Regions from separate parts of the Homo sapiens genome. Here regions 2, 3 and 4 are each linked to region 1. Evidence: fine-mapped expression QTL. A gene starts in region 1. Each other region holds a variant in brackets. All regions are shown on one strand. Distances are between the middles of the regions.

Region 1 (8,292 bases):
ATGAGGGGGTCTGAGGAAGCAGAGCTGGGAGAGCCTGGGAAGGTCTTGTCTCCGCCCCCTCAAGACTCATTCTAATTCTAGGTCATGGCTTGGCGCAGGGGTCCTCTGCTCTTTTCCTCCCCAGGAAGCAGATGGCAGTTGGAGGACGAAGCCTTGCTCTGAGATGGACAGGCCTCCCTGTGAACCCCACCCCGATCTCTGTGTGACCTTGAGCCAGTGTCTTTACCTTTCTAAGGTTCAATTTACTCATCCAAAAACATGGGGATGAGACCGTCATGTAAAACATCCAATACAGTCCCTGGCCCAGAGATAAGTACTCAAGCCCTGGCTGCTGCTGTAAAGGCTGCCAAGTTAAATCCTCTCACTCTTCTGCCAGTACACCACGTGCAGCCCCATCTTGACACATCCCCCCAGTCTTCCTCTCCTCCCCCAACCAAGTATTCCCCATGCTTCTCCCCTTGGGCAGGGACACCTGGAGGATAGACAGACCTATCACCCAGGAAGGGTCCCCAGGTGTCTCCTGGGCTCTGTGAAGTGTCTGTCTTGGGTGCAGGGCACAGTTAGGAGGGAGAGATCAAGTTGGGGGTGTGAGCAAGAAGGGATGGGGGAAAAGGCATCCTAGAGGAGGGTATGCCTGAGCTGAGGGCACCTTGGGAAAGGGTGGAGGTGCAGGTCCCAAGCAGATAAACAGCTCTATAAAGGCACAAATGAAACCAACAGCCTGGTGTGGCTTTAGGGGCCCATGTGTCCTGCGGACCTCCCCAAGAATCATGGCCTCCTCCCGTTGGCTGTGGAGACCAGGAAAGGGGTTGGGGCAGGGCAGCCATGAGGCCAGTGTGCATTTGAGTAGGGGAGGCTGTGCTGGATAGTGTGGACGGTAGCCTGGGCCTGGGGTCTTCACAGTTGAGGGAGTGAGTGGGTGGAGAGGGAAGGCCCAGGGGACTCTGTGACCATCCCCGTGTGGAGGAGGGAGCTTTAGGAGGTCATCGCGGGGCTCCCTGCCATCACGCATGCCTGCCCTGGCAGCCCCTGTGTGGCACTCTGGCAGCTGGCCTACCTGGGACTTGTCAGTTGATTCCTGCCATTCCCATCTGCCCCTCACCTCACCCAGGGCTCAGAGAGATGGTGGAAGCTGTGAAGGCCTGGGCAGATGCCCACCAGGGCCTTGTAGAGGCCACAAGGGTCCCGGGGTAGGGGTGGGGTGGCCTTACCAAGAGGAGCTGGTGTGCCGGAAATTCCCCAGGTGGCCACGAACAGCAGGAGGCTTGTGAGCTGCCACATTCTGGAGGCACTGGCACCTGTCTGAGGAGGACTTCTGAGCTCCGGGCAGTGCCTACCCCCGCTGCTGCTCTGCCTGCACCCCCAGGTGGAAGCGGAATGAAAGGGCTGTCCCTGTGTGCTGGCCGTCAGGGCGGAAGCTGGGATTGAGGGTCCTTGTTCGCTAGAGACATAGCCTCAGAAGGCCTCGGCTGCCCGCTCTACGTGGGGCTGAGCTCACACTGCCTGCCTAGAAAGCAGCTCCAGAATGCAGTGGAGAGGGTGCCAGGATGTTTGTGTCCTCCCTGGGGACAGTGGGGTGGCTGCCTCTGCCGGTCTGATGACTGGGCTGAGAATATTAGCTAACGTTGATTGGACACTCATGGTGTCTTTCAAACAATTTTTACAGGATTCACAGGGCAGGCCATGAAGCCAGACTGCACGGTGCAAATTCCAGCTCCAGCACTTACTGGAGGGCAATGTTGGGCAAGATGCTTAACTGCTCCATGCCTCAGTTTCCTCATTTGTAAAATGGATGGAATAACGTGGTGTATCTGTGCCTTAAAGGGTGTTGTGAGAATTAAAGGAGTTAGTCCACATAAAGCTCTCAAAACAGGCTTTGCACATAGCTCATGCTCAGTAAACATGAGATATTATGACTTCAGTTAAGGCTCACAACCACCCAAGAGGTAGTTATTAATGCTGTCAACCCCATTTCATAGAGGGGGAAACTGAGACTCGGAGGAGTTAAGTGGTTTATTAAAAATCCAACCCTTGCTGGTCTCCGTTGATTGCACAGGGAAGTCACCAACCCAGGGGATCGATCAGATTCTGTCCCCCATCCTCCAGGAGTAGGGTCTCACACCATCAGTACACTGCAGGCACCAGACTCGGAAGACTGAGGCAAGGTCCTGGGTCTCCATGTTTACATCCATGCATTACTCGCAGAGCCAGGACTCAAGGCCAGGCCTGTGTGGTTTTAGGCCTGGAAATTCAACCCCTGCCCCAAACCACCAGGTGCTCCAAAAGGCCACAGAGATAGCCCTGGTGGCCAGAGATCAAGGAACCCTCCCCAGTGGATAGGCCACGTGGCCCTCTGCACACCCTACCGGACCCTGCTCTCCATTCTTGCCGACTCCCTCTGAGGCCACTTCTGAGATTTGTTCAAATCCGACACCCCCAAAGGTGGAAGTGGGGTGGGGAGAATGGAGGGTCCTGGGCTCCAAACTGTCTGTTGGAATGGCCCTGGGCCCTGGGGACCCTTGGCCTGGAAAGAGGGAGGCGCATGGCAAAGGGACCTGAGACTGTGGCTGCCAGGCCTGGCCTGTGGAGGGCCTTGTGTCCTTTCACCCCAAGCTCAGGCTTGTTGAGCACCCTGGCTGGAGGATTCAGCCCTCATCACCACCTAGCTCTCTTCTCCCGGGGGCAGCCCTCCCTCCACACCCCTCATAGACCTGCCTGGAGGGGGACTCACAGGGGCGGGTCGTGGAGATACTGCAAGTTCGCCGTCCTGCCGCCATGACAGCCTGGAGTTCGAGTTAATCCATAACCACAAATATTTGCTTGGCCCTCAGCACTGAGGCCTCCCTCTCCATAGACAAACAGTGGCACTAGCACTCCTGGTCCTAGCTCAGCACGGCTTGTTCTGCCCGAAGCCCACCTCTGCCCACCAAGGATGCCGTCCAGCAGGGAGGGAGGTGAGGGCAAAACCCTTGACAGATGTGGTCTCATTTTAGCCCCATAGTGGCTGGCTGAGGGAGGAACGTTGTCCCTGTTTTTCAGATGGGGACATTTTTGCCCAGAGATATTATAGTTTGCCCAAGATCAGCACAACAGGTAATATTCCATATTTCGTCAAATCTAAAATACCATTAATTATAAGACACATGTATTTATGTGCCACCATACAAGAAAAAAGACGCTGTCCCAATGACATGCCATCCCAATTTCTGATACATAAAATCATGAGAAGATGCTCCTTTTTGGGTCCCCAGTGCATAGGTGCTGGGCACTGGGCTCCACCCTCACCTCCAATTGCTCACAAATCACCCCCAATCCCCACCCCCAACACACACACACAATGGCACATAGCATCCCTCTAACCTCTATTTTTCAGGTAAGGACACTCAAGTTTTGTGTTACTCGCCCAGATTCACTGAGCTGGTAGTTGGCAGATTTAATTTGAACTCAGGTCTTGCTGCTTCCATTTGGCCCCTTTTGTGGACCAGTAAGAAAAATGAACGGGATTCCAGAAAGGCTGCAGCAATTTCCTGGCCGGGGTGCCAGAAGGGAGAAGGGCAGAAATAAAGGGTCCAGCTCAGCACCTTTGCCTGTGTCCTGCAGTCTATCAGCATTTATTAAGCGTCTTCCTGCTCCGAACCGGGCTGCACCAGAGATGCCCCCCTTTCCTCCCTGCCCTACCTGTTCCTGGGAAGACTTGCCCACGTTCCTTCTCCAAGTCTGCACCTCTAAACGGGGCATGTGACCCTGCCTCGCTGGCTTCCATTGATTGCACAGGGAAGTCACCAACCCAGGGGATTGATCAGAGGAGTAGGGTCTCACACTGTCAGTACACCATAAGTACCAGACTCGGAAGATTGAGGCCAGGTCCTGGGCATCCATGTTTACGCTTAAAGCAGAGGAAGCTGATGAGAAGGAAGATGCAGGTGTGCAGAGGGGGACTGAGGCCACGGACACCTAGAGAGTCCCAGGGAGCAGCGGAAGGAGGCCCCTGCCTCCTTATGATTGGTGGCACATCCTGGCTTCGGGTGCAGGAGGGTCCCCATGCCCTCCTAAAACCCTATTCCTCCTGAAGTTTCTTTAAATTGGCTGGAACAGCTTGTGTTGATTGTAACCAGATGCCTCCTGCTGAGGCACCACACCATGCTGGGCTGTGGTGGTACCAGGCCCTCCTAGAGGAACAGGGTAAAACTCTAACACTCTAACAAGTCAGGCCCACCTTGCCCAGGGGCAGGTACACATAGGAAATGCTTACAGAATTCAGAGGAGAGGGCAATCAGTACAAGCTGGCATAGCCAGGGGAGGCTGCCTGTAGGAGGTGACACTTCAGCTGGACATCAAAGAGCAGACAGGAGGAAAGACATCCCCCCCAACCCCACCCCAGGTTGGGAGACAGTGGGGAGACACAGAACACAAGCAGTCAGGAGGTGCTAGGAGGGGTGGAGGTGGAGAGGAGGTGGAGGGTGAGGCAATGGATTTTGAAATCGAGACTATGAGAAGTGGAGAACCAGGAGCTGTTTGTGACAGGCTGTGGCAGCTGCCTAGAAAAGCAGAGACAAGCTTCTGGGAACTCAGACAGGAAGCATGAAGACCCCATGCACAACCACAGAAGGCACCAGCTTGTATGTCCCTGTTTGCTTCAGGCGTCGCCCCCGCAAGTCTGCAGAGATCACTGCCCTCTGCTTTGCCTTCCAGGTGCAAGATGTTGTGGGTATTCTTTTGGCGCCGCTTCCCTTCCCCACCAACTTCTCGCCCTCTACTCCTCCCCACCCCAGCACAGGCAGCCGCTCCAGGGCAAGTCTATGCAGGCTCCACACACTGATTCTGACCTGCATAAATGGACTCTGCCCGGGGCACCCATGTCCAAACCAGCCCAGGTGCCCAAAGCACCGGCACCGGTACGAGCCAGGGCGGCTGCAATGCTCCCAAGTGCCCAGTGCTGGGGGTTGGGGGTGCCACGGCTTGGCAGGCTGCCCAGAGGGCGGAAGGGTCCTCTGCAGAGCTCTGCACGCCTGTCGGCCGACGGGGACTCTGCACGGCGGGCTGCGTCACGGCCGCCTCATCGGCTGGCAGCGCAGGAAACCCCGTCACCTTCTCGAGGTAGGGACAGTCCTGCCGCCAGCCGTTCCTGCGATCCCAGGGTCTCTGCAGTTACACCTGGTTCCAGCCGGGGGCGCCGCGCCGCACCGCTCCTGCGGAGGAGCCAGGCGCCCTTCACAGGCGCGGCCTCACCCGCTTTACTTGTCAGGTGTGAGTCGCCCCACGTGCACCCGAACGCGGTCAGGTCCACCCAGGAAGCCGGAGCAGGACTTTGGGCAGCGAGCTCGCTGTGAGTTAGAGAGCAGAGGGACACCTGTGGCTAAGGAATTCGCTGCATGGATGAAGACCCAAGCAAAGGAGCTAGAACCAAATGTGTGTGGGGCAAGGCCAGCCACAACTACCGGAGCAGGCGGGGTTCCAAAGCCCTCAGCTCTGGAGTCACGTTCCCACGGCCTTAAACCTCCGCTAGCCTTTTTCTGACAGGGGGATTTAACTTCCCTGTGTCTCAATGTCCACATTTGTAAAATGGGGTCAGCGTCCGTCTCAGGTGACTGTTATAAGGGTCACGTTAAATCTTTTATTAATTTTTTAATTAAAAAAGTTTTGAAACAGGGTCTCTCTGGCTCTGTCACCCAGGCTGGAGTGCAGTGGCGGGATCACAGCTCTCTGCGGCCTAGATCTCCTGGGCTCAAGCGATTCTTCTGTTTCAGCCACCTCAGTAGCTGGGATCACAGGCCCGTGCCACCACGCCCAGCTGATTTTTAAAAATTTTTAGGAGAGAGGAGGTCTTGCTGTGTTGCTCTAGAACTCCTGACCTCAAGTGATCCTCCCTCCTCAGCCTGCCAAAGTGCTGAGATTACAGGCGGGAGCCACTGTGCCTGGCCTTATTTTTAAGTATTTTATACAAAGTGGACATGGCCTGGGACTTAACAGGACTTCCCACAGGCCTGGGAAGGTCAGGGAGGGGCCGACTAGGAGGGGAAGGGGTCAAGGACAGCTGCTGCTGTGTGGAAGCTCAGACTGCACAGATCCGTTGTACAGATTAGGGCTGATCATTCAGTCAGCCCTAACCTGTACAACACTCCCCACCCCTTGCGTTTTGGCCCTGGCTCTGCCAATAGATGCCAGAAACCCAACTTGAGCTCACTCTGCTGAACAGTGATGAGAGATGGGCTGGTGGTCAGGGCTGACGGGACTAAGGTTCCTTCTCACCCCATGCCACTCCCCTGTGTGGGCATTGCCCATTCTCCATTCTCTCTGCAGGGACGCTGTGCTGCTCAGCCCACCCCAGGCAGGGCAGGGAGGACAGACACTAGAGAGGCTCCCGGGAGCTCCCTGGTAAGAAGTGGAGTGGGATGGATGCAGTCCAACGTCTCTCTCTTTTGTTGTTGTCAGGTTATTGTGGTATAATTTACACACAGGGAAACTCACACTTTAAAAATGTACAGTTCTGCTTGTTTTGACAAATGTATGTTATAGTGCATCCACCACCACATCATGATATACACATTTTCATCACCCTCAGAAATTCTGTGTTCCACCCCAACTCTTGGCAACCACTGATTGGATTTCTATCTCTATAATCTGCATTTTCTAGAATAGCATATAAAGGGAATCCTACAGCACATATATATATTTTTTTGAGTTGGTGTCTTGCTCTCTTGCCCAGGCTGGAGTGCAGTGGTGTGATCTCAGCTCGCTGCAATCTCCACCTCCTGGGTTCAAGTGATTCTCCTGCCTCAGCCTCCTGAGTAGCTGGAATTACAGGCACACGCCACCACACCTGCCTAATTTTTGTATTTTTTAGTTTCACCATGTTGGCCAGGCTAGTCTTGAATTCCTGACCGCAAGTGATCCGCCCACCTCAGCCTCCCAAAGTGCTGGGATTATAGGCGTGAGCCACCGTGCCCAACCAGTACATAGCTTTTTAAGACTACCTTCTTTCACTCAGCATAAAGCTTTTGAGATTTATTCATGTGGAATTCTATATCAGTACTTTATTTCTTTTTATTGCTGACTGGGCTCCATTATATAGATGTGCCACAATCTGTTATCCATTTGCCAGTTCTTGGCTATCATTAAATTAAGCTGCTAGAACATTTATGTATAGGTCCTTGTGTGGGCATATGTTTTCATTTCTCTTGGGTAATATCTAGGAATAAGATTGCTGAGTCATGTGGTGAGTACGTGTTTACTTTTGGGAAAAAAAAATAAAGTCAAACTTTTCCAGAGTGGTGGTGGCATTTTGCATTCCCACCAAGCAATGTCTGAGTGTTCCTGTTGCTCTGCATCCTCACCAGCATTTGGTGTTGTCGGTTGTTTTTTAATTTTAATTTTCAATTTTTAGCCTTCTTAATAGATGTGTAGTGGTATCTCATTGTAGCTTTAATTTTCATTTCCCTCTTCTCTGGTGATTTTGAGCATCTTTTCCTGTGCTAATTTGCTATTTATATCTTCTTTGGTGAAGTGCCAGTTTAAGTCTTTGGGCTGTTTTTTGTTTGTTTCTTTGTTTTTGAGGGTTTTTTAAATTGAGTTTTTAGAATTTGTATGTATCCTAGTAACAAGCCCTTTGTCAGCTAAGTATTTTGCAAAAATTTCCTCTCAGTCTGTGACTTGTCTTTTATACTTAACAGTGTCTTTTAATGAACAGATGTTTGTAATTTTGATGAAGTCCAATTATCAACATTTTCTTTTATGATTCGTGCTTTTGTGTCCTACCAAAGAACACTGCCTTATTCAAGGTCACAAAGGCTTTCTCTTATGTTTTCTTCTAGAAGCTTTATGGTTTTTCACTCTTACATTTACATCTCTGACCCATTTTGAATTCGTTAATTTTGGTATATGGTGTGAGGTAGGGGCCAAGAATCATTCTTTAAAATATATGGAGATCTAGTTGTCACAGTCCCATTTCTTGCAAACACTATCCTTTCTCCCATTGAATTGCTTTGGTGCTTTGTTGAAATCAATTGACCGTATATGCATACATCTACTTCTGGACTCTATTTTGTTCTGTTAATCTATCTTTCATTTTTATGCCAACATTATAATGTCTTAATTGCTATTACAAGATTCAAGTAACTCATGAAATCAAGTAGTGTAAGTCCTCCAACTTTGTTCTTATTTTTCAAAATTGTTTTGGCTATTCTAGGTCCTTTCTACTTCTATATAAATTTTAGAACCAATTTCTCAATTTCTAAAAAAAAAATTCCTGGTGAAATCTTGATTTGGATTGAATTGAATCTATAGAACAATTTA
Region 2 (5,763 bases), 26 kb after region 1:
AATGAAAAGAGAATCCTTAGCACACCTAGCACCAGATATTGGTCTCTAACACCATTCTCCAACAAAAGAAACCAGGGCCCTTTGGAAAAATGGCTGATTCTAGACTGGGACAGGAAATATTCAAGATGATTTTGGAGCGCTGGCAGTGCCAGAAAGCAAAGAAGTGCTGAAAAAGGAAAAAAAAAATCATAATGATGGGTGTCAAAGGGACACAGGAGACAAATCAAAGAGCTACCAATGGCCAAACCCAGAATAATTAGAGCAACAAAATAAGTAATGTAGTATTAGATTATAACCCAGAGCATAAGTTATATACCCACAATTCTATATTAATATAAATAAAAGATTACATAAGTAAACAGGAGAGAAGAGACAGATCTCACATGCAGAAGAATTCCTAGTAATTTATGCAGATACTTCACACACAAGGAGGTGGAGCATAGCTCCCCACTCCTTAGGTGTGGGCTGAGCATAGTGACTTCCTTGCAAAGAGTATAGTATGGAAAGAGGTGAATAAAGAGTAGCTTTATGGGGGAGAAACCTGACAAACACTATCTCAGGCAGGTGATCAAGCTCAACACCAAGTCATAAATCATACTGACAGTATATACCTGCTATGGTTTGAATATGTCCCCCAAAGGTCATGTTTTGGAAACTTGATCCCCAATGCAACAATGTTAGGAGGTAGGACCTTTAAGAGGTGTTTAAGTTATGATTAAGTTATGAGGGGAGAGCCGTCATGAATGGATTAATGTCATTATCTAGGGTGGGCACCTTATAAAAGGATGAGTTTGACTCTTCTTGCTCTTTCTCTCATCTTCTCTTTGCCCTTCCCCCACAGGATGACACAGCAAGAAGGTTCTTGCCAGATGTGGGCCCCTCAATCTTGGACTTCCCAGCCTTCAGAACTGTGAGAGATAAATTTCTGTTCATTACACATTACCCAGTCTGTGGTATTTTGTTACAGGGCACAAAATGGACTAAGACAATGGACTACCTTTGATAGGATGTGATAAAGATGGCACTTTACTTCAGTGGTCTCCTTCCCCAGAACCCATAACCTCAGTGTCATCATGAGAAAAACATTACATGATTCACAATTGAAGAATATTCTACCAAACACCTAACCAGTATTCCTTAGCACAAGGCCATCAAAAACAAGGGAACTCACAGCCAAGAGAAGCCTAAGGAGACGTGATGACTAAGCATAGTGTGGGCTCCTGGAACACAAAAAGGGCATTAGGAAAAAACTGAGGACATCTGAATAAAGTATGGACTTCAGTTAATGACAATGCATCAATATTGGTTCACTAGTTATGACAAATGTACTATACTAATAATACAAGTTCGTAATAATAGGTGTATTAGTCTGTTCTCACATTGCTATAAAGAACTACCTAAGACTGGGTAATTTAAGAGGAAAAGAGGTTTAATTGACTCACAGTTACACAGGCTGTACAGAAAGCAAGGCTGGGAGGCCTCAGGAAACTTCAATCATGATGGAAAGTGAGGGGGAAGCAGGCACATCTTACCATGGCAGAGCAGGAGAGAGAAACATCAAAGGGGGAAGTGCTGCACACTTTTAAACAACCAGATCTTGTGAGAATTCACTTGCTATCACAAGAACAGCAAGGGGGAAATCTACCCCCATGAGCCAATCACCTCCACCAAGGCCCCTCCTCCAACACTGGGAATTACAATTTGACATGAGATTGGGTGGCCATACAAAGCCAAACCATATCAATAGGAGAAAATGAATGCTGAATGTGGGTATAGGAGAAGTCTCTGTACTATTGTCTCAGTTTTTCTGTAAACCTAAAACTGTTCTTGTAAACAAAAAATAAAATTCTAAGGCCCCCAACCACCTGAATAGACCCCTCCTCTTGGCCAAGGGCACTCCAATGTTAACCTGAAAAACCTAGTTCAGGCTGTGAAGGAAAGGGGGAGCTGGACATGCCTCATTCTACCCTCTTCCCTTTTGGAATTTCTGACAGAACAGACTCTTTAAGTTCAATAAGAAACATGTACAATCTATTGTCTCTGAAGCCTGCTATCTGGAGGCTTCATCCACATGATAAAACCTTGGTCTCCATAACCCCTTACGGTAACCCAGAAATTATCTTCTATTGATAGTAACTCTTTCAACCAATTGCCAATCAGAAAATCTTTGAATCCATCTATGAGTTGGAAGCCCCCACTTCCAGTTGTCCTGACTTTCTGAACCAATGTACACTTTACATGTATTGCTTGATGCTTCATGTCTCCCTAAAATGTATAAAACCAAGCTGTAATCTGGCCACCTTGGGCACATGTTCTCATGATCTCCTGAGGGCTGTATCACAGGCCATGGTCACTCATACTTGGCTCAGAACAAATCTCTTCAAATATTTTATAGAGTTTGACTCTTTCGTCAACATTCTAAAATAAAAAGTTTATTTTAAAAAAGAATGAGGGAAAGAAACAGAGGGATGGTTCCCCCTTCTTTACTGTGTGGGAGGTCATGTTTGGAGCTGAGGTGGCCGTCCATTGATTCTCAATATGCCTGTTCACAGCCCTAACCAACCTTGGATCCATCCACTGGATTTTTGTTATGTGACAAAATCAACCTCACTGTTTAAGCTGTTTTGGGCCAGGTGTCTTGCTCGCTGCAGTTGAATGCATCCCAACCAATAGTACTCGTATCATTTTCATGGCCACAGCTGTGGTTTAGACCTTTAGACTTTCATCTCCC[T/C]TCCCAGCAATTTGGCCTGCTCTAATATTCCTCCTTCCCAATCTCCTGGCAGCTCTCTTCCTTCTCTAGCTTCACCCCCTGCCTGCATTTCTCTCAACACCCAGTGGCCAGCAACTCTTGCCATTCCTAGGCAGGGCACGTTCCCTCATACTTCCAAGCTTGGACACACTTGATTCCCTCTGCCTGGAATGCGTACTCCTCCATCCTTATTTCTTCCAGCAAATAACTACCCCCGTTCAAGTTTCAGTTGCCAGCCATGGCACAATATGTGGCCAGCAAGATTCTAAGATGTCCCTGCAGATCCCTGACGGCTGGTGTACATAGCCTGCATAACCCTCAGTACTGTGAATATAATGGATTATACTCCTATGATCAGGTTATGTTATGTGACACTGTTGATGTTAAGAATAGATTATCTCAGTGGGCCTGATCTAATCATATGAACTCTCTAAAAGCCGGGTGCAGTGGCTCATGCCTGTAATCCCAGCACTTTGGGAGGCTAAGGTGGGCAAATCACGAGGTCAGGGGTCCGAGACCAGCCTGACCAACATGGTGAAAACCTGTCTCTACTAAAAATACAAAACTTAGCTGGGCGTGGGGGTGGGTGCCTGTAATCCCAGCTACTCAGGAGGCTGAGGCAGGAGAATCACTTGAACCTGGGAGGCGGAGGTTGTAGTGAGCCGAGATTGCGCCATTGCACTCCATCCTGGGCGACAGAGTGAGACTCTGTCTCAAAAATAAAAAAATAAATAAAAATAAAAGCAGAGAGTTTTCTCTGGCTGGTAGCAAAAGAGGAAGTTAGAGAGAGATCTGATGTAGGAGGATGTTTGGCACGCAAGAAGGTCTCTGTCGCTGGCTTTCAAGATGGAAGGGGTCATGTGGCAAGGAATGCAGGTGACCTCTAGGAACTGAAGGCAGGCCCAGGAAATAGGGATGTCAATCCTACAACCACAGGAAACTGAATTGTGCCCCAAAGAAGAATGAGCTTGGAAGATCTTTGCAAGGGCCTCTAGATAAAAAGTCAGCCCAGCTGATACCTTGATTTCAGCCTTGCAATATACCCTGAGTAGAGAACTCAGCCTTGCCCCTGTGCAAACTTCTGATCTGTATAACTGGGAGCTAAAAAACAGACACTGTTTTAAGTCACTAAGTTTGTGGCAGTTTGTTATGCAGCAACAGAAAAGGAACATGCCACATTTCCTCTCTGAAGTCATCTCTCACTTCCCCAGACACACCTGTGACATCTTCCTCTTGCTGCTGTGGTGCCTGATACACATCCCTCCCATGATGCAGGTCACAGTGTGTTATCATTATCCATTTACCTGTCTGCCTTCCTCACAGGATTCTGAGTTCCTGGGCAGTGGGGACTATATAATTTTATCACTGCAATCCCAGGCACAGAGTAGGAAGGCAAAAAAATATTCATTGAATGATGGTTTCATCAATAAAAAAATCCCAATATCACTAATTTGTAATCATATATACTAAAATAACCAAAGATGTCAGAGATTTAATATCTAAGCAAGAGGAAAAGTCACCAATATAAAAGGAGAATGGCGAAAAAGAAAGAATAGCTACTATAACTATACCCACGGGATGTTTCTGAGGAACCCAGAGGTGAATGAAGTCCCCGGGGTGGTAAGTGAGGGAAGGGAGTGGAGAAATGAGCAGCACTATGAGGGGAAAAAATTTATCTCTAGATTACTTAGTAAACAAACACGTTTTTATTGAATGCCTGCTATGTGGTGACCCAGTAACTGTGGAGAACAATATAGATATTTAAGATTTAAATACTATCCTCCGGCGTTCTGAGACCCTCCTTTCTGTGGCATACAGGTCTTAGAATGTTAGATTCAAGAAGGTCTTAGATTTATGCATAAGTCCCCCATTTTTTAAACAAATAGAAGCAAACTGATTTTCCACTGACCTCTGTGTTTCTGAGGTGCACATCCTTGTTCCTGTGACTTTGACACCTCTGTTAATGGGTCTGTAATAAAAATTCCTGGAAGAAACCCAGAGATATTTTGACATTACACAACAGTTTCTCCCTCAGTCTCTGCCCCACAAGTGCCAGCTCCCTTGACCCTCAGAGCCCAAGTTGGGTAGCTCCTTACCTCTGGTTCGGGTGAGTCCCATTCCCATCTCTCTCATTTCAACTGCTCCAGTGGAAATGTGGTCTGGAATATGCATGAAAGGGGTGGATCCAGAATGTACGAAGAAACCAAGAAGAAGCTGAACAGGGAAGAATGGTACAGGAAGTTGTAAGGGGTATTTAAGGAAAGGAGAAGAGATGGGGCGGAAAGGTGCTTTCTGGATCAAAGTAGGGTGAAAACGTCGGGATGCAGGTTAGTCACACCACGGAGGGCCTCACCACTAGTCTGATTAATTTGCATTTTATCCTGTGGGAGATGAGGAGCGAAAGAAAGGGTTTTAGACTCTAGCTTTGGGGGTGGGGTGTCAACTCATGTCTCTGGGCTTAAGTTTCCACATCTGTTAAGCTGGAGAAGTAATACTTGCTGGGCTAACCAATGTACACAACCAGTCATAACCAAGTATCGATGGTGATAAGAACTAAACAGAAAACACAAATAACACTTAGCCAGTCTCCAAGGGGGTGGTTTAAGGTTAGGTGGCAAGCCTGAAGTAATTTCTAAAGTCCCTCAGGAAAAAAATTCTGAAACTTGAGCCACAAATTAAGAGGCAGACGGCTTTTCTCCTTGCAAATGACCTGCCACACAGTCCGTCACTGCCTCTGCTAGCTCTGCTACCCTTGGGCCCTGTCCACAGCCCACGTGGGAGACCTTTTCACGGGATCTACTCGGATGTCTGGGATCTGGCCACTACCGCAGGCTCGAGACAACCCAGGTGCGTATGCGCCGCGCACACGGAACAGCACAGGCTGCCCCGGGGCAGGGGCGGGGGCGGGGCCGAGGCCGGGGCGGAGCCAGGACTGGGAATCCCCGCGCCGTCCGGCCGGTGGGGGCGGTGGCCTGTGTGTGGGCGTGGCGGGCCTCTGCGCAGGCGCCGACCCA
Region 3 (6,466 bases), 150 kb after region 1:
ATATATAAAAACCTTCCAACTTGTTTCTGTAGGTAGGTGACACTTCGTTTGATCTGCCGGAAGCAAATGTCCTCATTCAGATCTCATCCCATGGTGGCTCCAGGCGTCAGGAAGCCCAAAGGCTAGGGCGGGTGCTTCGAGCTAAAAAAGGTAAAGTGGCCTTTCATCTTCTGTTGCAGGAGGTCACTCCTCTTAAACCACTTTAGTTAGGAAGACGATAGGGGTGAGAGCTGCCATGTGCCCTGGGGCTAAATAGACTCTGGAGGGAGAGAATCCCAAAGCAAAGACCTAGATCCTTATGGCCCATCATTATTTCTCATACCTTGGGGGTGAATATGCAGGTGTTTTCCATGACAGTGTCACGGAATCCACACAGATGTGCTCTGTACACTGTGCAGCTGTGTTGGTAGATGGTGAGAGGGAGCCAGGGCAAGGCAGTGCTTATGGGGTAGACATGGAAGGGAGAAAACAGAGCTGGGCCACCAGTGTAAGTGGAGGAGCTGGAAGCTGCTTCTGGAACTTGATCAGGAGGCAGGGAAAGGTTTGGTAGGAGCAGCTTGGGCAGACACACAATGGGCACGTCATTCATAACCTGTGCAGAGTGCCGCCCTGGTGGCAGCTTGCAGCAGGGGCAGGGCAAGCTCAGTGAGTGAGGAGGTGAGAATCCTCATTGCAAAGGCTTTTTCTGAGGAGGCGTGGCACCCCTGTGCTTGCTTACTGCGGTAAAAGGGCCCAGACTGCCATTGTGGACATGGCAGGGACTGACACTCTTGCTAAGAGATGGCCGTGTCTGTCTTACTGGGACCAGGGCACATCCTGAGACAAGGACACAAGCCCTATCCTCAAGGAGTCTGCTTATTCAAGGAGGCATCTGGACTGCTAGAATGTTTGAAAATGACAAGATTAGTGGGCATCTGTTGGAACTGTACTGCGTTCAGATGTGTTTAAGAAGCGTCTAGTAGCTTGTATTTAAAATGGAGATGAGGCAGATAGCATGGACTAGAAATAGCATGGACTCAGGCACCAAGCCAGCTGTGTCACCTTTGGCAAATTATTTTCTCCTCTGAGACTTGGTTTTCCCATCCAAAGTGGGGGTGACAATCCTGTCTTGCCAAGACTGCTGTGAGGATTCAGCTTATAAGTCATAAAATGTAGTCGGCTGGCTGGGCACAGTGGCTTACACCTATAATCCCAGCACTTTGGGAGGCCAAGGCAGGAGGATAGCTTGAGCCCAGGAGTTTGAGACCATCTTGGGCAATGTAGTGAGACCCCATCTCTACAAAAAATAAAACTAGCTGGGCGTGGTGGTGTGTACCTGTGGTTCCAGCTACTTGGGAGGCTGAGACAGTAGCTTTTATAAACTGACAGGACTATGATCTGCTAGCAAATGTGAATATAATTCATTACTTATTCCTTACTCTAATTTGAAAACTCCTTTATTGATTGATTGATTGATTGATTGATTGAGATAGAGTCTTATTCTGTCACCCAGGCTGGAGTGCAGTGGCACAATCTCGGCTCACTGCAACCTCCATCTACTGGGGTCAAGTGTGATTCACCTGCCTCAGCCTCCCGAGTACCCGGACTACAGGCGTGCACCACCACGTCCAGCTAATTTTTTTTGTATTTTTAGTAAAGACGGGGTTTCACCATTTTGGCCAGGCTCGTCTCTAGTGATCCACCCACCTTGGCCTCCCAAAGTGCTGGGATTACAGGTGTGAGCCACTGTGCCTAGCCTTAAAAACTCCCTTAAATGTGAATAGAAGGCCAGGCGCGGTGGCTCACGCCTGTAATCCCAGCACTTTGGGAGGCCCAGGCAGGCAGATCATGAGGTCAGGAGATTGAGACCATCCTGGCTAACATGGTGAAACCCCGTCTCTACTAAAAATACAAAAAATTAGCTGGGCGTGGTGGCGGGTGCCTGTAGTCCCAGCTACTCGGGAGGCTGAGGCAGGAGAATGGCGTGAACCCGGGAGGCAGAGCTTACAGTGAGCCGAGATTGCGCCACTGCATTCCAGCCTGGGCAACAGAGCAAGACTCCATCTCAAAAAAAAAAAAAAAAAAAAAAGTGAATAGAATTGTTTTCTTACTCAAAACACTGTTTAACATGACACTTGGCTCCTTTCTTTGCATCTCTGAGCTCTTGTAAGATTTGAGAAACAATTACATTCAAGGGCAGTATGCTTAACCTACTGACATTTGAACTACAAAGCAAAGATGTTCAGATTTTCCTGAAGGATCAAGTCTTTCAGGCCACAGAATTTTCTGTCCTAGTTTTTTAATACAGTAGTCCCCCCATATCTGCAATTTTCCTTTCCACATTCAATTACGCATGGTCAGCTGTAGTCTAAAAATATTAAATGGAAAATTCCAGAAATAAACAATTCATAAGTTTTAAATTACACACTATTCTGAGTAGCATCCATGATGTGAATTCTTGCTTTGTGCGGCATATTCATGCTTAAATTCTCCCCACCCATTAGTCACTTAGTAGCCATCTCAGTTGTCACGGACTGTCACTGTATCTCAGTGCTTGTTTTCAAGTAACCTTTATCTTACTAATGGCCCCAAAGCACAAGTGTAATGATGCTAGCAATTCAGATATGCCAGAGAAGCTGTAAAGTGCTTTCTTAAAGCGAAAAGGTAAAAGTTATTAATTTAAGCAAGGGAATAAAAATCATATGCTAAGGTTGCTAAGATCGAGGGTGAGAATGACTCTTCCTGCTGTACAAGATGATCATCCCCAGAGCACATAGCCGTCAGACTTTCCAAGGTCAATACAAAAGAAAGAATCTTAAAGACAGCTAGAGAAAGGGTCATATAACTCATCATGCTAACAGCAGACTTCTCAGCAGAAACTTTACAAGTCAGAAGAGATTGGGGGACTGTTTTTAGCATTCTTAAAGAAAAGAAAAGAAATCCTGGCTGGGCACGGCGGCTCACACCTGTAATCCCAGCACTTTGGGAGGCCAAGGTAGGCAGATTGCTTGAACTCAGGAGTTTGAGACCAGTCTGGGCAACATGATGAAACCCTGTTCCTACAAAAAATACAACAATTAGCTAGCTGGGTGTGGTGGTGTGCGCCTGTAGTCCCAGCCACTCCGGAGGCTGAGGCAAGAGAATCGCTTTAGTCTGGGAGGCAGAGGTTGCAGTGATCTGACATCTCACCACGGTATTCCACCTTGGGCAACAGAACAAGATCCTGTTTAAAACAAAAACAAACAAAAAAACAGGCCAGGCGCGGTGGCTCACACCTGTAATCCTAGCACTTTGGGAGGCTGAGGTGAGTGGATCACCTGAGGTCAGGAGTTCCAGACCAGCCTGGCCAACATGGTGAAACCCCATCTCCACTAAAAATACAAAAATTAGCCGGGCGTGGTGGCAGGTGCCTATAATCTCAGCTACTCAGGAGGCTGAGGCAGGAGTATTGCTGGAACCCAGGAGGCAGAGGTTTCAGTGAGCCGAGATTGCACCATTGCACTCCAGCCTGGGCAACAACAGCAAGACTCTGTCTCAAAACAAAAAAACAAAAACCAAAAAACCATAGTGAGACCCAGTCTCTTTAAGAAAAAAAATAAAAAAGAAAAATCCTAACCAAGAATTCCATATCCTGCCAAACTAAGCTACATGAGCAAAGAAGAAATAAAATCTTTCCCAGACAAGCAACTGCTAAAAGAATTTGTTATCACCAGACTGGCCCTACAAGAGAGTCTTGAGAGTTCTAAACATGGAAATGAAAGAATGGTGACACCTGCTACCACAAAAATACACATAAGCACATAGCCCACAGACCCTGTAAAGCAACTACACAATCCAAACTACAGAGCAACCAGCTAATGACACCATGTTAGGAATAAAGCCTCATGTCTCAATATTAACCTTGAATGTAAACAACCTAAACACCCCACCTAAAAGACTTGGAGTGGCAAATTGGATTAAAAACAAGACCCAGCCTTCTGCTGTCTTCAAGAGACCTCTCTCACATGTAACAGGACTCATAGGTTCAAAGTAAAGGGATAGGGAAAAAAATCTATCACACAAATAAAAAAAAAAAAAGAGTGGGGCAGGGGGTCACTATTCTTGCATCAGATAAAAGAGACTTTAAACCAGCCACAGTAAAAAAGGACAAAAAGGTCATTACACGATGATAAATGGTTCAATTCAACAAGAAGACTTAACTATCCTAAATATATATGCGCCCAACATTGGAGCACCTAGATTCATAAACCAAGTACTTTTAGAGCTAGGAAAAGGCTTAGACAGCCACACAACAATGGTAGGAGATTTTGACACCCCACTGACAGCATGAGACAGATTATAGAGGCAGAAAACTAACAAAGAAATTCTGTACTTAAAATTCAACACTTGACCAATTGGACCTAATAGGCATCTACATAATTCTCTACGCAACAACCACAGAATATATATTCTCATCTGCCCCCAGAATATACTCTTAAGATTGATCACATGGGCCTGGTGCCGTGGCTCACACCTGTAATCCCAGCACTTTGGGAGGCTGAGGCCGGCAGATTGCCTGAGCTCGGGAGTTTGCAACCAGCCTGGGCAACACGGTGAAACCCC[G/A]TCTCTACTAAAATACAAAAATTAGCTGAGTGTGGCGGCATGCGCCTGTAGTCCCAGCTACTCGGGAGCCTGAGGCAGGAGAACTGACTTGAAGCCGGGAGGCAGAGGTTGCAGTGAGCCAAGATCATGCCACTGCACTCCAGCCTGGGGAACAGAGCAGGACTCTGTCACAAAAAAAAAAAAAAAAAAAAAAAATAATTGATCATGTGTTTGGCCATAAAGCAATGTGAGACTTTATGCTCGACTTTATTAAAGTCTCAATAAATTCGGCAGGGTGTGGTGGCTTACGCCGATAATCCCAGCACTTTGGGAAGCCAAGGCGGGTGGATCACGAGGTCAGGAGATCGAGACCATCCTGGCTAACACAGTGAAACCCCGTCTCTACTAAAAATACAAAAAATTAGCCGGGTGTGTGGTGGCAGTTGCCTGTAGTCTCAGCTACTCGGGAGGCTGAGGCAGGAGAATGGCGTGAACCTGGGAGGCGGAGCTTGCAGTGAGCCGAGATCGCGCCACTGCACTCCAGCCTGGGCAACAGAGCGAGACTCTCTCAAAAAAAAAAAAAAAAAAAAAAGACTCAATAAATTCAAAAAAGTCGAAATCATACCAAGCATTTTCTTGGGTCACAGTGGAATAAAAGTAGAAATCAGTACCAGGAAGAACTCTCAAAACCACACAATTGGCCAGGCACAGTGGCTCATGCCTGTAACCGCAGCACTTTGGGAGGCCAAAGTGGGAGGATCATTTGAACTCAGGAGTTCAAGACCATTCTGGGCAACATAGCGAGACCTCATCGCTAAATAAAAGAAAAAAGAAAAAAAAAAACCCACACAATTACATAGAAACTAAACAACTTGCTCCTGAATGACTTTTGGATAAACAAATTAAGGCAGGAATCAAAAATTATTTGAAACAAATGAAAACAGATACAACATACTAAATCTCTGGGGTACAGCAAAGGTATTGTTAGGAAAGTTTATAGCACTGAACACCTACATCGAGAAGACAGATTTCAAATTAACAATTTGAGATTTCACCTGAAGGAACTAGAAAAATAAGAACAAGCTAATCCCAAAACTAGCTGAAGAAAAGAAATAACTAAAATCAGAGCAGAACTAAATGAAATTCAGACTCAAAAACAATACAAAGGATCAATGAAATAAAAAGCTGGTTCTTTGAAAAGATAGATAAGGCCAGTCGCAGTGGCTCATGCCTGTAATCCTGGAACTTTGGGAGGCCGAGGTGGGCGGATTACAAGGTCAAGAGTTCAAGACCAGCCTGACCAACATGGAGAAACCCCGTCTCTACTAAAAATACAAAAATTAGTCGAATGTGGTGGCGCATGCTTGTAATCCCAGCTACTCAGGAGGCTGAGGCAGGAGAATTGCGTGAACCCAGGAGGCAGAGGCTGCAGTGAGCCGAGATCGCACCTCTGCACTCCAGCCTGGGTGACAGAGCGAGACTCCGTCTCAAAAAAAAAGATAAATAAGATTGATGGACTGCTAGTTAGATTAACAGAAAAGAGAAGATCCAAATAAGCAGAATCAGAAATGACAAAGGTGACATCACAGCTGATCCCCAGAAATACAAAAGATTCTCAGAGACTTAAAAATACCTCTGTGCACACAAACTAGTAAATCTAGAGGAAATAGATAAATTCCTGGAAACATACAACTTCCCAAGATTGAATCAGAAATTAATTGAAACCCTGAACAGATCAATAAGGAGAAATTGAATCAGTAATTTAAAAAAAAAATATGGCCCCAGGCATGGTGGCTCACACCTCTAATCCCAGCACTTTGGAAGGCTGAGGCAGGTGGATCACCTGAGGTCAGGAGTTCCAGACCAGCCTGACCAACATGGTGAAACCTCGTCTCTACTAAAAATA
Region 4 (8,522 bases), 64 kb before region 1:
ACATGGAAGTCCCTTCCTTTATCAGTATCCTAGAGAGTAATAGATAATTACTTCCCTAATATGCATTTGGGTCTTCCTGACTGGTACCCGTTTTTATGAAAAAGGTTTTTGTTAGGACCCAGAATTACAGTGATATGTGTTACAGGCATATAAACTAGTTAGTGGTTTCCTGGTGGGAGGTAGCTTGTTTCCTGCTGTCAGTGGCTCAGCAACATGCATTTGAGAACTCATTACATAAAGCCTTATACTAAATATTTAGGAGATGAATTTGATTAACACATACTCAAAATGTGGTCAGAAGTGGAAAAGACTTGGGAACATTCATAAGCCCAACTCACTGATCCACTATGCTTTGAGACTAATGGCACCTTTGTTGCGGAGCACACACAGTGTGTGTGTGTTGCCTGCCTATGGTTCTTCTCCATGACCCCTGCTTTGGCAGCTGTTTCCACTGACTCCACTCTCCTACCTGCCAGTTCATGTTGCTATTAAGTGACTATCAAAACAAAACGTACTTTCTTATTTCTTGAGAATAAATCGAGGGTAGAGAAGGACTAGTTCTGTGCCAAGAACTTCCTCCTCTCTCTCTCCCTCCTCTTTCTTGTGCCCATATCCGTGTCCCTGACCACCTCTCCATGTCCCCTGTACCTGTTTCTTTTTTGCCCTTCTGTCCTTTTTCTTTTTCTTTTTCTTTTTCTTTTTGAGACGGAGTCTTGCTCTGTCGCCCAGGTTGGAGTGCAGTGGTGCGATCTCCACTCACTGCAAGTTCCGCCTCCTGGGTTCACACCATTCTCCTGCCTCAGCCTCCCAGTTAGCTGGGACTACAGGCTCCTGCCACCATGCTCGGCTAATTTTTTGTATTTTTAGTAGAGACGGGGTTTCATCCTGTTAGCCATGATGGTCTTGATCTCCTGACCTCGTGATCCACCCGCCTCGGCCTCCCAAAGGGATTACAGGCATGAGCCATCTCCTTTTTCATTGTTTCTTCTCTCTTTTTAGCCGTCTTTCATATTTCTCTTAACATTTTTATTTTTGAGAATTGGGAACTACAATATGGCAAAGAAAATAGGTAATAAAAACTCTTAGTGGCCAATCTGCTTTGAAAGCAGAGGTTGTGTTTCCAGGGCTGTGTCCCTGTGTGCTGATGTTTCTGGTTCTGGTCCCACTTCCCCATAGGTGGAGCAGGGTTGCATATTCACTCAGGACTTGCTTCCACATTGTAGACGCTAATGAGCAGTATTAGAAAAGACATGTCCAGGAAAAGAAATGGAAATGGGTTTCCAATGAAACACTTTTTGTCTTAAGTATCATTTTTGTTTTCAAAGTTATGTAAATAAATATAAAAAATAAATAGGGTTTTTTGTTTTTTGTTTTTGTTTTTGTTTTTGAGACGGTGTCTCACTCTGTCGCCCAGGCTGGAGCATAGTGGTGCAATCTCTGCTCACTGCAAGCTCTGCCTCCCGGGTTCACACCATTCTCCCGCCTCAGCCTCCTGAGTAGCTGGGACTAGGGCAGGCGCCCACCACCACACCTGGCTAACTTTGTTTTTGTATTTTTAGTAGAGATGGGGTTTCACTGTGTTAGCCAGGATGGTCTTGATCTCCTGACCTCTAGTGATCTGCCCGCCTCGGCCTCCCAAAGTGCTGGGATTACAGGTGTGAGCCACCATGCCCGGCTAACAATTTGAGGTTTTAAATGTATTTCCAGATATGCCTTGAACTTAGTTTTTATAATTATAGAAAATGTTTAAGTACAAAGAGAAACATTATTCATGGTCCTAGCATTCAAAAGCAGTTTGATGTATTTGTTGTCTTTTTTCTACTGATAACGTTAATTAAAATTATACTAAATATCAGCCTGGACAACATAGCAAGACTCCATCTCTACCAAAAAATTAAAAAATTAGCCGGGCATGGTGGCATACATCTGTAGTCCTAGCTACTTGGGAGGGTGAGGTAGGAGAATCACTCGAGCCCAGGAGTTTGAGGCTGCAGTGAGCTAGAATCATGCCATTGCACTCCAGCCTAGGTGAGACCCTATCTCTAGAAAACACACACACACACACACGCACACGCACACACACACACACACACAGCCCAACCCCCCCACCCCACCACCCCCCGCCCCGACCAAATTATAATTTTGGTTATTTTCCTTCATTAAACCACCTAGTCGATTTATCATTTTTAATGGCTGCATAATGGTCTATCCTGAATATAATTTGCTTTTTTTTTTATTATGTATTTTCTTTCTTTGTAGAGATGGTTTCACCATCTTGCTCAGGCTGGTCTCAAGCGATCCTCTGGCCTTGACCTCCCAGCGTGCTGGGATTACGGGCGGGAGCCACCACACCCGGCCATGAATATAATGTGTTTATTCGTTCGTTTATGATTTCTGATTTTTTACTCCTAAATAATGTAGTAACCTGTGCTACATTGTATTTTTTATATGTTCATTTACTCCGTGGAATACTTCTAAAATAACAGTAAAATGACAAAGGAATGCCTATTTTTTCATGAACTTTTAAAAATACAGAAAGCATAAATAAAATTAATGCCATCTGTAATCCCACCACAACTTAATGTTAACATTTTAAATTATTTCTTTTTTTTTCATACATATGCATAGACAATTACTGGGTTTTTGTTTTGTTTTTTGTTTTTTTTTCAAGCGACATTGTGATTGTATTCTTTTATACCTTATTGGGTTTGTTTTTTACTTACCATGGTAAAAATCCATTTGAGTGAGCATTCTTGAGTGGTTTTGCATTGTGTCTTCACACAGTTGTACCATAATTGAAGCTGCTTTTGGCCTTGCTCTGGTAAAGCAGTGTAGCACACACTCTTAATTTCTAAGGAAGTGTAGCGTTCCCTTGATGAATCAGGAGAGAGATCATTGAACTTGGTGTATGAGGTACTCTGGTCTGTCTTTTCAAGCTTGGGGTAAGTAGGCATCTGCAACTACCAGTCATATATTTTGTAACCCACTGGCCCGTGTGTGCCCTGATTGCTGAGGCTAGACAGATCCATCAGGGCTTAGACAGTTAGTGAGGGTCCTGGGAGTAGGCGAAGGGAAGTCCAGTTAATGTGTGAAGCTGCTGGGAATTGTGTAGTTGGCAGAGATTTGAGCAGGTAAAGCTTCCGATGTGGACCAAGTACAAGTACTAAGATCACGGCACATCCTCTAAAAGGAAGTCAGATATTTGGGACTGTCCAGGAAATCTGGGAGATAGTGTGATGGTGGCATAGCTCTTTCTCATCTGACACTTTTTATGCTTACTCAGAGTACGAATGCCAAGTATTGAGACGATACAGAATAATATTTGAATTGAGATATTCCTAGAAAGACAGGTCAACATGGCTCTTGGTCAAGAATGACTTAGAGTTCCTTGCCTAGTGCTCAGCTGGCTTCATGTCATAGTTGAGGCTGGGTCCACAGGTGGGATAAGATTCCACCAAAGCTCACCAGGCTGGTACTGACCCCAGAGTGTCTCCCAGGCCCTACCTTATTTTAGCATTCTTTTGAATTGAGTTTCAGAGGTGATTCAGTAGTAAATGTATGGGGAGAAGAATTAGAAAAACCCATCTCTTTTTAAGCAGTCATCATTCTTAAACATCTGAATTGTTTTACAACAGAGTCAGCAAACCTTTCTAGCATTTCTAAAAGATGGCAGTTTCTTGGAGACCACATCTTTGCAAGGCAGTATTTTCAAAATATAAAATAGCCCCCAAACCAAACCTTTAAACATGAAGGGCAAATGGGTAAAGACTTAATATTCTTTTTGTGTCAAGTATACTTAATGTAAATCTAGTTGCTTGTGAAGTAGTAAAATAGTAATAGCTCCTATTATTTTGAGCACTGACTATATGTGCTCAGCCTCTGTGCTTGGATCTGACATCACTATCTCATTTCCTTCTCTCAGCAGTTCTGGAAGGAGTACCTACCCTGGGTATGCTTTGCCCAGGGTCACAGAAGTTACTGAATTAGAGCAGGGATTCACCCCAAGTGTAAAAACTCAAGAGCTCCTGCACTTAGGGGTTTACTTCACTAATCATCTAACCTCATTTATTATGCTTAAGGCTTTTTCTCAGCTGACCTGACTTTGCTTTAGGTCATTCTTTTTTATGCCAGCACTGTTTGAAAGTGCATGTCAAGCGGCTAGCTCCACATTTGGTCTTCGAAAGGGAAACGCATGCAGTTAAAACGTAATGTACATGATGGAATTGGGAGGATCATAGTCTCAGTTTCCCCCCCCCTTTCTCCCATCTAGGAGACCTCCATGGACTGCAGCAAAATTAAAAATAAAGCACAGACAACAGAATTATTCTTCACTGAGAGAGTTTAATATGCGTTTCTAACACCATCTATACTTGCTTTGTTGTTCTTGAGGTCATCAACACACATTCTGGTTATTCCAGAGCTAGAAGCTCTTCTGGTTGCTAACTCAGTTATAAGAAGATGAAAGACATAACTAGACTTACGTATTTCAGTAGTTTGCTCTTTAATTTTTCCCTTACTCTTAGTTTCAGGCGACCTCCAAGAAGGGTATCAGTCGACTGGATAAACAGATGAGAAAGTTCACAGATATAAGGAAAAAAAGCAGATCTGCACACGCAGTGAAAATCAGCATTGAGGGCAACAAAATGCCATTGTGACCTTGCCTGGAATGTGTCCCCATCTCTACTCTAAGAAATGCGCAATGGACTCTTTGGAGAAAGAAGATATTTTAAAACATTTTTAGTGTGTCT[G/A]TAAATGGTTCAGCGTGTATCAGATGTTGTCATAGGACTCACATTTCTCTCAGTTATATTTAAAACCGTTGTGTACTTTGTACAAAGGAATACTAGTCATACTTCTATAAACTTTACACAATAAAATTTCATTCTGGTTTTTGGGGGGCTGTCTCTTCATTTCTTAGAGGATACATTCTTAATAGGGGCAAAGATTGTTTCTTGTTGTGTGGGAAAAAATCTTATGATATTATAGGGGTTTGTGACCCTTAGAGGTTCAATCCTCCCTCATTGTGGTATAATGAGGAATTTGTGTGGCCTTTGCCCCTGGTTGCTGACAAGGAATGTCTAAAACACTTGTGGTTTCCTGAGTGATAGAGCGTCTCTTGTTATGCTAACGAGGTGACTGTATGGTGGGCTTTAGGGTGGAGGCTGGTAACCAGAAACAGCTACTACAGAGGGTTGGGCCAGCAGGACCCGGGAGATTGAGACGCAGTCAGTGACCTGTTTGATTTAATCAACCATGCCTGCCAAATGGGACCTGATGAAGAGCTCTGGACCCCACAGCTCAATGACGCTTCTTGGTTGGTGAAAGCATTGGTGTGCTGGGAGGGAGAGGATTCCCCTCCATGAGGACAGGGGCACAGAAGCTCTGCCTTCCCTCCCAGACCTTCCCTTATGTATCCCTTCATTTGACTGGCCCTCCTAATTCATATCTTCTGTAGTAAAACTAATCATAGTGTTTTCTAGGGAAGGATAGTGCTTTCCTGAGTTCTGTGAGTCATTTCAGCAAGTTCTTAAACCTGAGAGGTTTATGAGAACCCCAAATTTGTAGCTGGTCAGAAGCGACAGTAGCCTGGATGCCTCACTTGTGGCTTGCATCTGAAGTGGGGGCAGTATTGTGGAGGACTGACCTCTTAAACCCGTGGAGTCTGATGCCAGCTCTGGGTGTGTCGTATCAGAATTGAATTGCAGTACCTCAGTTGGGGTGGAAATGGAATACCAACAAAATCTTATTAATGTGTTTCTCTTATTTGGGATAATTATTTTGATTTTCATTTTTCTCTGGGATGGGGGCTTATAACAGAGAAAAGATCAAGAAATACTACTGTCTTCAAGGAAATATGGATATAACTGAAAATCACTATGCCGAAAGCTTAGAGCAGTTGAGCAGTTAGAGGAGAGAGAAAAATTATAGCTTGTAGCTATGTTTCTTGTTGCTCTATTTTTGTGATAATAGTCTCTATAGACTTAATTATGAGAGGTCTCTTAAGGTCAAGATGACGAGGCCCAAGAACGTTTTATCAACTAGATTATTTTAATTTCAGAAATCCTATTCTGATACGGATTGGCACCTTGATCTTCAGAAACACATAAAACTACTTTTGGCCAAAAAAGCCTTTGAACAGCTAAAATAATGAAGTTTAGATACTAAAACACTGCTCACAAGAAACTCTCAAACTATTTACTTCCAGCAAACGCAGAAGCACAGTGGGATATAGTGCTTTGTAAAAAGCAGGTGCATAAAGGCATTAGAAGGTAATAGCTAGCCACTAGATGGAGACAAAAACCTAAGCTTTTCTGCAATGTTTCATACAAATACCCTCAAAAACACTTGAGAAGGAAAAAGCAGAGGCATCTAGTGAAGCCTTACACTGATCATTAAAAAATAAATTTGAAACAAAGACAACAAAGGTTGTATTTAAGAAAGATTTTTAAGTTACACAATTTTGTCATTTAATGGGGTAAGCTCCAATTACCTGAAAATTTCACTATTACAGGGTAAAACTTTAACGATGTTGGCAAGTAAAAAGTTTTAAACCATACCCGGGGAATTCAAAATGGTAAGAGATTCTCCTGTACTGTGTTTGAAGGAAAAAATTAGTTTCTATATAAATGATCCTTGGTGTTGGTTTTATGGCAGCTCAAACCTAGCTGGCCAGAAAAACCTTTAATTTTGAAGATATTTCCAATTTATAGTAGTTGCAAAAATAGTAAATAAACTCCGGTATACTCACTGATATTTACCAAGTGTTAACGTTTTGCCACGTCATTGACTCTGTCATCTTGTATATGCATAGAGCTATTTTTGCAGACTCAGAGTAACTTGCCGACAACTTGCCCCTTGAGCCCCAAATACTTCAGCATATTTCTTCCAAGAACATAGACTTTAGTTTTGTCCCAGAATTGATGATACTAACTTTGACAACTTGGCTATGATGATACAGAGTTGTGGGGGATTTTGTTTGTTTTTTAAGAGATGGGTTCTTACTGTGTCGCCCAGGCTGAAGTGCAGTGGTGTGATCCTAGCTCCCTGCAGCCTTGAACTCCCAGGCTCAAGCAATCTTCCTGCCTCAGTCTCCTCCCAAGTGGCTGGGACTATAGGCATGCACTCTCATGCTTGGCTTTTTTTCTTCCCCTTCCGGTTTTAAGATTTACTATCTTAAACAGTTTTACCGCTCAGTGGCATTGAGTATGTTCACAATGTATCGCCATCACCACCATTCATCTTCAGAAATCTTCTCATCTTGCAAAATTTTAACTCTACCTATCAAAGAACTCTCCTTCCTCCCCCAAGCTCTTGGCAACCACCATTCTACTTTCTGTCTCTTACGAGTTGTCTGTTCTAGGTACCTCATATAAGTGGAATCATACATTTGTCTTTTTGCGACTGTCTTATTTCACTTGGTATAATGTCCTCAAGGTTTGTCCATGTGTCCAAATTTCCTTGCATTTTAAGGTTGCATAATATTCCAGTGTGTGTATATACCACATTTTGTTTGTCCATTCATCTGTCAATGGACACTTGGGTTGCCTCCACCTTTGGCTATTGTGAATAACGCTGCTGTGATCATGGGTGTACAAGTATTTGTTCAAGACCTTTTTTTCTTCACTTTTAGAGATATTAAAAAACAACCATTTTTTTTTCCAATTCTTTTGGTTATATACCTAGAAGTAGAATTGCTAGATCATATGGTAATTCCATTTTAAATTTGTTTAGAAAGTGCCATACATACACTTTCCATAAGGGGCTACACAATTTTATATTCCCACCAATAGTACACAAGAGTTCCAATTTCTCCATATGCTTGCTAACACTTGTTATTTTTATTTTTTGATGGTAGCCATCCTAAGTGATGTGAGGTGGTATCTTGTGATTTTAGTTTGCATTTCCCTAATGATAGTGATGTAGAGCATCTTTTAATGTACTTTTTGACCATTTATATATCTTCCTTGGAGAAATGTCTATTCAAGTCATTTGCCCAGTTTTATATTGGGTTGTTTGGTGTGAGTTGTAGGAGTGCTTTGTGTACTCATGTTAATGCTTTATCAGCTATATGATTTGCAAATACTCTCTTTCATTCTTTAGATTGCCTTTTCACTCTTGATTGTGTTCTTCGTTGCACACATTTAAATTTTGCTGTATCTCACTTTTTTCTTTTATTGCCTGTGCTTTTGGTGTCATATCAAAAAAATTATTGCCAAATTCAATATTATGAAGCTTTTACCCTATAATTTTGTAAGTTTAGTTCTTATGTTTAGGTCTTTGATCCATTTCTAGTTGATTTTTTGTATGTTGTGTAAAATAAGGTTCCAACTTTATCCATTTGCATATGGATATCAAGTTTCCCCAGCAACATTTACTGAAAAAAACTTATTTTCCCCATGGAATGGTCTTGCAAGTCTTTTCAAAAATCATTTGACCATATGTGTAAGAGTTGATTTCTGGACTTTCTTCTTTTCCATTGGTCTGCATGTTGCAATATAGAACTGTCTGTGTGTCTGTCCCCACTG

Which allele goes with the higher level. Alleles are on the strand shown, and positions count from the first base shown. SD is a standard deviation of normalised expression in the study named. Not every link is listed here.
In carriers of allele A in region 4, the expression in esophagus muscle of the gene that starts at base 2,797 in region 1 tends to be higher than with G alone (large effect, 1.1 SD a copy in GTEx).

The links.
Region 2: its variant is fine-mapped to the expression of PROC in whole blood (TOPMed, PIP above 0.99).
Region 3: its variant is fine-mapped to the expression of PROC in whole blood (TOPMed, PIP above 0.99).
Region 4: its variant is fine-mapped to the expression of PROC in esophagus muscle (GTEx, PIP above 0.99).

The regions. Positions count from the first base shown.
Region 1 is chr2:127,412,932-127,421,223 of GRCh38, reverse strand. PROC (protein C, inactivator of coagulation factors Va and VIIIa) reads right to left here and starts at 2,797. Exons shown (of 9, transcript NM_000312.4): 1 at 2,732-2,797; 2 at 1,212-1,302. The coding sequence starts at 1,281. RefSeq lists enhancers at 4,634-4,693, 5,074-5,836.
Region 2 is chr2:127,388,081-127,393,843 of GRCh38, reverse strand. It overlaps MAP3K2-DT (MAP3K2 divergent transcript), which reads right to left. Exons shown (of 4, transcript NR_187129.1): 2 at 4,846-4,963; 3 at 4,659-4,733. It also overlaps a transcript of MAP3K2 not described here. Among named protein-coding and RNA genes, the nearest start is that of MAP3K2, 3.0 kb to the right of the region's middle. RefSeq lists a silencer at 5,580-5,763. The variant T/C (reference allele first, on the strand shown) is at 2,732.
Region 3 is chr2:127,265,020-127,271,485 of GRCh38, reverse strand. ERCC3 (ERCC excision repair 3, TFIIH core complex helicase subunit) reads left to right here. Exons shown (of 15, transcript NM_000122.2): 12 at 33-150. Among named protein-coding and RNA genes, the nearest start is that of ERCC3, 26 kb to the left of the region's middle. The variant G/A (reference allele first, on the strand shown) is at 4,582.
Region 4 is chr2:127,477,177-127,485,698 of GRCh38, reverse strand. It overlaps IWS1 (interacts with SUPT6H, CTD assembly factor 1), which reads left to right. Exons shown (of 14, transcript NM_017969.3): 14 at 4,524-4,887. The coding sequence ends at 4,655. Among named protein-coding and RNA genes, the nearest start is that of IWS1, 45 kb to the left of the region's middle. RefSeq lists an enhancer at 4,941-5,892. The variant G/A (reference allele first, on the strand shown) is at 4,749.